Homo sapiens: one gene and its partner. The protein of the gene in region 2 purifies or fractionates together with the protein of the main gene of each other region. This does not show direct contact. Each region holds a gene or a part of one and is shown on either strand. Other genes may lie near its edges.

Region 1 (3,656 bases), on a different chromosome or scaffold from region 2:
ATCTCAAATACAAAATTATTTTATAAATTGGTGTTTATTAAAATTAGTTAAGAATGGATTATTTAGTCAGATTTTGACACAATTACATTATTCTAGTTATAATTTATTTTATAATCAAAAATAAACAACAAAACCTAAGTGAGGAGCTGGTTAAGAGTGAAAATATGAAGCACAGAGAGAAGGCCTGTGAACAGTCCAGGAACTTCAGCTGCTGCCACCTTCTGTCCAAGAGTGTGACAACTGCTGCTTCCCCATGCTGCCTTTTGTTTCCAGACGATTTTCATTAAAAGCACCTTTTATCCCCAATTAATGTAACAACCGATGCGTCAGTGCAACAGTGCAAAAGGCTTTCATTCATAAAAATCAAACTTGAGGTCATGTGGGGAAAATCTATTAGCAAAGTATGTCAACATGTTGAATGTTCAAGGTTTTTTTTTTGTTGTTGTTGTTTTTCCTGAAGTGATATCTCCTCATGCTGGACAAATAAGGCTTTGGAAATTTAACACATGAATATAACCATCAAACATGTTTTTTATAAAACATGATATATTTGAAACAGTTGGAAAAATTAAAATATAAAGTATAATATGGTAAATAAGTCACTAACTATATTTTATTAACTTTAAACTTCTATATTAACTAATTATATTACTTATAATATTAACTCAGTATATTATATATGAATGAAAAAATTATATTTTATATTAGCTAAGTATATTAATGAGGTAATATATTCTTATTAAATGTATACTGTTTCTCAAGCTATGAGAATTACATAAAGCGTTATCTAATGGTCAACATTTTACTTCTTGGAGGTCAACAAAAATCAAAATGTGGAGGCTGTCTGAATTGCAGTTTTGAAACAATAATTCCATTTGATGTGGTTCCCTAACAATTGTCATTTAACAAATGCAATTTAATTTCAGCACTTTCTCAAAAGTAGTAATGCTAGTAAATTAGTATTGAATTTACAGACTGTAATGTGATTCACCTGCTGTAGATTTTCCATCACTTCTGACATCAGCAAACCTAGACAGTAGTTAATGATACTTGAAATTTTCTCATTAAAATAATATACCGTTTCTCTTTATTTTATGACTAAATTATAAATTTCTGTTCCATAGTTGTATGATGAATACTGTTTTTTTAAAAATTTCTTAGGCATGCTAACTTGAAATTGATTTTGAATTCATGGACATCTGTCATGAGTCCTAAATGCTATTCTCAGATATTAAACAAATTGATATTTCATTGGGTGAAAAACTCACTCAAACTTCCTGTGGTTTACTTTTCTGGCAAAATCTCTTACTGATACTTGGTATAATACCTTTCTCATATAGTGAAAATTTAAATAAGTTTAACGTCTTTGAAATGCTGAAGTAAAAGGAACCATAAAAATGCAAAATATATTTTCATAGACAGCACAGCTAGTTTGCCCTAAAATTTATTTTTTAAAAATTTTACTTTAAGTTCCAGGATACACGTGCAAAATGTGCAGGTTTGTTATCTAGGTTTACATGTGCCATGGTGATTTGCTGCACCTATTGACCCATCCACTAAGTTCCCTTCCCTTGCCCCCACCCCGCAACAGTCCCTGGTGTGTGTTGTTCCCCTCCCTGTGTCCATGTGTTCTCATTGTTCAACTCCCACTTAGGAATGAGAACATGTGGTGTTTGGTGTTCTGTTCCTGTGTTAGTTTGCTGAGGATGATGGCTTCCAGCTTCATCCACGTCCCTGCAAAGGACATGATATTATTCCTTCTTATGGCTGCATAGTATTCCATGGTGTATATGTAGCACATTTTCTTTATCCAGTCTATCATTGGTGGGCATTTGGGTTGGTTCCATAACTTTGCCATTGTAAATAGTGCTGCAGTAAACATACATGTGGATGTGGCTTTACGGTAGAAAGACTTATATTCCTTTGTGTATATACCCAATAATGGGATTGCTGGGTCTAATGGTATTTCTGGTTCTAGATCTGTAAGGAATTGCCATACTGTCTTCCACAATAGCTGAACTAATTTACATTCCCACCAACAGTGTAAAAGCGTACCTGTTTCTCCACAGCCTTGCTAGCACCAATTGCATCTATAGCATCTATCTATTCTTGACTTTTTAATAATTGCCATTCTGACTGGCCTGAGATGGTATCTCATTGTGGTTTTGATTTGCATTTGTCTAATGATGAGTGATGTTGAGCTTTTTTTCATGTTTGTTGGCCATGTAAACATCTTCTTTTGAGAAGTGTCTGTTCATATCCTTTCTCCACTTTTGGATGGGGTTGTTTGTTTTTGTAAATTTAAGTTCCTTGTAAATTCTGAATATTAGACTTTTGTCAGATGAGTCGATTGTAAAAATTTTCTCCCATTCCGTAGATTGCCTGTTCACTCTGATGATTCTTTTGCTGTGCAGAAGCTCTTTAGTTTGGTTAGATACCATTTGTCAATTTTGGCTTTTGTTGCAATTGCTTTTGGTGTTTTCATCATGAAGTCTTTGCCCATGCCTATTTCCTGAATGGTATTGCCTAGGTTTTCTTCTAGGGTTTTTATGGTTTTGGGTTTTACATTTAAGTCTTTAATACATCTTGAGTTAGTTTTTGCATAAGGTGTAAGGAAGGGGTCCAGTTTTAGTTTTCTGCCTATGACTAGCCAGTTTTCCAGCACTATTTATTTAATAGGAGATTATTTCCCCATTGCTTGTTTTTGTCAGATTTGTCAAAGATCAGATGGTTGTAGATGTGTGGTGTTATTTCTGAGGTCTCTCTTCTGTTCCGTTGGTCTGTCTGTTTTGGGACCAGTACCATGCTGTTTTGGTTACTGTAGCCTTGTAGTTTAGTTTGAAGTCAGGTAGCATGATGCCTCTAGCTTTGTTCTTTTTGCTTAGGATTGTCTTGGCTATACGGGGTCTTCTTTAATTCCATATGAAATTTAAAGTAGTTTCTTTTTCTAATTCTGTGAAGAATGTCAATGGTAGTTTGATGGAAGTAGCATTTATTCTATAAATTACTCTGGGCAGTATGGCCATTTTCACAATGCTGATTCTTCCTATCCATGAGGTTGGAATGTTTTTCCATTTTTTTGTGTCCTCTCTTAATTCCTTGAGCAGTGGTTTGTAGTTCTCCTTGAAGAGGTCCTTCACATCCTTGTTAGCTGTATTCCTAGGTATTTTATTATCTTTGTAGCTATTGTGAATGGGAGTTCATTCATGATTTGGCTCTCTGCTTGTCTGTTATTGATGTAAAGGAATGCTTGTGATTTTTGCACATTGATTTTGTATCCTGAGACTTTGCTGAAGTTGCTTATCAGTTTAGGGAGTTTCTGGGCTGACATGATGGGGTTTTCTTGATATACAATCATGTTGTCTGCAAACAGAGAAAATTTGACTTCCTATCTTCCTATTTGAATATGCTTTATTTCTTTATCTTACCTGATTGCCCTGTCCAGAATTTCTAATACTATATTGAACAGGAGTGGTGAGAGAGGGCAGTTTTGTTATGTATTGGTTTCCAAAGGGAATGCTTCTTGCTTTTGCCCATTCAATATGATATTGGTTGTGGGTTTGTCATGAATAACTCTTGTTATTTTGAGGTATGTTCCATCAATACTTAGTTTATTGAGAGTTTTTAATGTGAAGCGATGTTGAATTTTATCAAAG
Region 2 (3,656 bases):
CTCTACTAAAAATACAAAAATCAGCCAGGTGTAATGATGGGCACCTGTAATCCCAGCTACTCGAGAGGCTGAGGCACGGAGAACTGCTTGAACCTGGAAGAAGGAGGTTGCGGTGAGCCGAGATTGCACCACTGCACCTCAGCATGGGTGACAGAGCAAGACTCTGTCTTAAAAAAAAAAAAGAAAAAATTATTTGATGTAAGGTCATATATATCAATATCAACACTTCTAAAGGCAAGGTGCTCACTATATCTTGAAGTAACTCATTCTAATTCTGGGCAATTCTAAGGAGCTATAAACTTCTTCCTCATAACCTAAAATCACATTTCCCCACTTCTATATCAGCCCTCTCAAAGCATGTGGAAAATTTATAAAATAATGAAAACTTTTTTTTTTTTTTTTAAGACAAGCCTTGCTCTGTTGCCCAGGCTGGAATGCAGTGGTGCAATCTTAGCTCACTGCAACCTCAGGTTCATGCGATTCTCCCACCTCAGTCTCCTGAGTAGCTGGGACTACAGGTGCCCATCACAACTCCCAGCTAATTTTTTTGGTATTTTTAGTAGAGATGGGGTTTCACCACATTGGCCAGGCTGGTCTCGAACTCCTGACCTCAAGTGATCTGCCCGCCTCAGCCTCCCAAAATGCTAGAATTACACGGATGAGCCACCATGCCCAGCCTATGAAAACTTTTAAAATATGAAAATATTTTATCTCTGTTAAGTCTTCTCTGGTCTCTTTTTCCAGAACTAATTTATTCAACTGCTTCCCAATATTCAGTCTAATGTCCTGTTCTCTTACGACTTTACACATTTTCCCTAAGCATATCCACATGGCTTCCATTCCTACTTATATGCTAATAATAACTATCAAATTTGCTTTTTCATACTGGGTCACTCTTCTGACCATGAAATCCATCTTTACCACCTCCTATTCATAAATGCCCATCTGGATTACACAAGCAGTTCAAACCTAATCTGTCAAGAATGAATCTTTTTTATTTCCTGACCCTCTTCTATATACTCTAGAAAGTCAGGCTGAATCCTCATTTTTATTTCTTTTCTCTTCTTTCATCCTCCCTTTAAGTATAATCACTACATTCTATCAATTTTATTTCCTACATAATTCTCAAGTCTGATCCCCTCCCCTTTATTTCTACTAGTCATGACTTTAGTTCAGATTTGTCGAAGGTGTATTCATGTGGCAATACATAATATGATACAAAATTCAAAGAATACGAAAGAATATTCAATAAAAAAGTAAATCTCCCTTCTATTAATATTACTATCTAGTACCCTACCCCAACCAAACCTCCCACACCTCCCCACCAAGTAGCTACTAAGTATTCTTCCAGAAACTATTAGAATAATTTTTTAATAATGGTCTTCCTCCTTTAGTCTTTTCTTTATCTTTAATCCATCCTCCCTAAGCTGTAGAACAGCCTTTCCAGAACATAAATCTCCAGGTGAGGAGCACATGGTGGCTTAACAGAGTTGTAACTTAAGCTTACGCTTCACCAAGCCAGAAGGGAAATAAACTAAGATCAAATTTCAAAATCCTATAATATGTAAATGTAATTAAGAAGAAAGTCTCTCTACATCATTATCCTAAACTATACCCAGTAATATCTTTAGCTCACTGCAACCTCCGCCTCCCAGGTTCAAGCAACTCTCCTGCCTCAGCTGGGATTACAGGCGCCTGCCACTATGTCTGGCTAAATTTTTATATTTTTAGTAAAGACAGGTTTTCACTATGTTGGCCAGGCTGGTCTAGAACTCCTGACCTCAAGTGATCCACTAGCCTCGGCCTCCCAGAGTGCTGGGACTACAGATGTGAGCCACTGCACACTGCACCTGGCTGGTATTCAATTCTAAAACAAGTAAAAATTTATAAAATTAAAGTGTTTATTCATTCTAAGTAATAATTATACCTTTGGTCACCATTAACTGGATAGCTTTCCTTTAAGAATTCAGCAAATGTTAACAGAATGTAAAAATTTTATAATTAAAACTTCGACTTACAAAAACAGCTTTCAGACTTGGTGAGTAGCATTCATTATAAAATTTTATTAAACAGTAATAAAGAGGTAACTGATGAAGACTCTCACCAAACCTGAGTCAGGCTCCTCTGGGCCCTCTTCTCAACTTAGGCCTGACCTTATACTCTGTTCTTGTTCGGCTTAGTCCAGTTTCAGCAAAAATCCTGCTGAATTGGTTTAGTGAAAAATCTCTCAGCCTTAGTATCTGATCTGCATCTACATCTAATCAAACTACTGATCCTTCAATATGTTACTATCCTCTTGCCTTCAGCAAGAATTTTATAGTTAGTCTAGCAAGAATCCCCTTGGCCTTGATGTTTCCTCAGTAGTTTTCCATCCACTCTTCCCACTTTGCCCCTTGGATATAAATCCCTACTTGTCCTTACTGTATTCACCGTCGGGACTGATCTCTCTCCACTACTGCAAACTCCCCACTGCAGTAGTTCTTTTTAAATAGTCTTCCTTGCCATCTTTAACAAGTGACAAAATAATTTTTTTCAACATTACATCATTTACTATAAAACAGTGACAAGTTTTGCCAATGATATACCAGAAGATGGCACAAGTTTTGACAGTTGAATATCCATTTTTGCAACTTACCTTAACATTCTTCAGTCCCTTTTCAAAGAGGCTAAGCATCTCGGAGAGTTTATTGTCAGAATGTACATTATAAATGGTCTGGCTGCGTTGTTGAAGCAAACCAATAATGTATTCATTTTCAATCTGCTCATGCATTTTGAACTCCTTGAAAGTAGCATACAAAGACTGCAGAAGAGCACGGAAATCGTTGTTGTTGGAAAAATTGGTTTTAGAAAGCTGAATAAAAATTTAAAAAGAAAAGTGTAATAAATACGTGCAAATATGCACAAATAAAAAATATTCAAATACATCCCTATTCACTTTTGCACACAGCATACTTCCCTTACACTTGGTTAAAGTACAAATAAAAGAAATTCATAAATTAACAAGTTATAATGGTATAATAAAAAGTGCACTAGGCCAGGAAGATGTTGGTTTGCATTCTGGAGGGCCTGGTGACACAGAAAAATGATATGTGCACAAATCACGGTTTCTTTAAAGAGAAGAGATTAAACCAGGCCCCTTCTAAACCTAAAATTTCATTACTCTATATGTATGCTAAATACAGGCAGGCAGAAATTTTAAAGAGGGAAACTTGATTAGGTTAAATACAACAGACGGGTAGATGAAAGGGGAAAAGCTACTAACACCATACCTCCTAGACTTGCTTTCTAAAGTATCTAGTATTCCTAAAATGGAACATAATCTAAGCTGTCTTATTGCCTATTATCAGCAGGAATGACGGTCTGATGACAGAGCATCAAAACAGATGACATAGAAGCTCCTAAAACAAAATTATTCCTACTATACATAACAGAATTAACTATCTTCTATAAAAAGTAGTGCGGATTATGCATTTTAAGAGTCATAGTGAACCAGTTTTAAAGTCACATTCTCTAGGATGGGATACCAGTTCTACCATTACTTAACTGTGTAACCCTGGGTAAGTTACTTTTCTTTCTTTCTTTTTTTTTGAGACAGAGTCTTGCTTTGTCGCCCAGGCTAGAGTGCAGGGGCATGATCTCAGCTCACTGCAGACTCT

Evidence for each region.
Region 1: the proteins of FBXL5 (region 2) and CTNNA2 purify together in Homo sapiens (affinity purification with mass spectrometry; one large-scale study listed by BioGRID and IntAct). This does not show direct contact.

Annotation. Positions count from the first base shown.
Region 1 is NC_000002.12:79,876,395-79,880,050, forward strand, and holds part of CTNNA2 (catenin alpha-2), read left to right. Parts: intron 1-3,656. UniProt on the Homo sapiens protein: May function as a linker between cadherin adhesion receptors and the cytoskeleton to regulate cell-cell adhesion and differentiation in the nervous system. Required for proper regulation of cortical neuronal migration and neurite growth.
Region 2 is NC_000004.12:15,641,858-15,645,513, forward strand, and holds part of FBXL5 (F-box/LRR-repeat protein 5), read right to left. Parts: intron 2,852-3,656; coding exon 2,636-2,851; intron 1-2,635.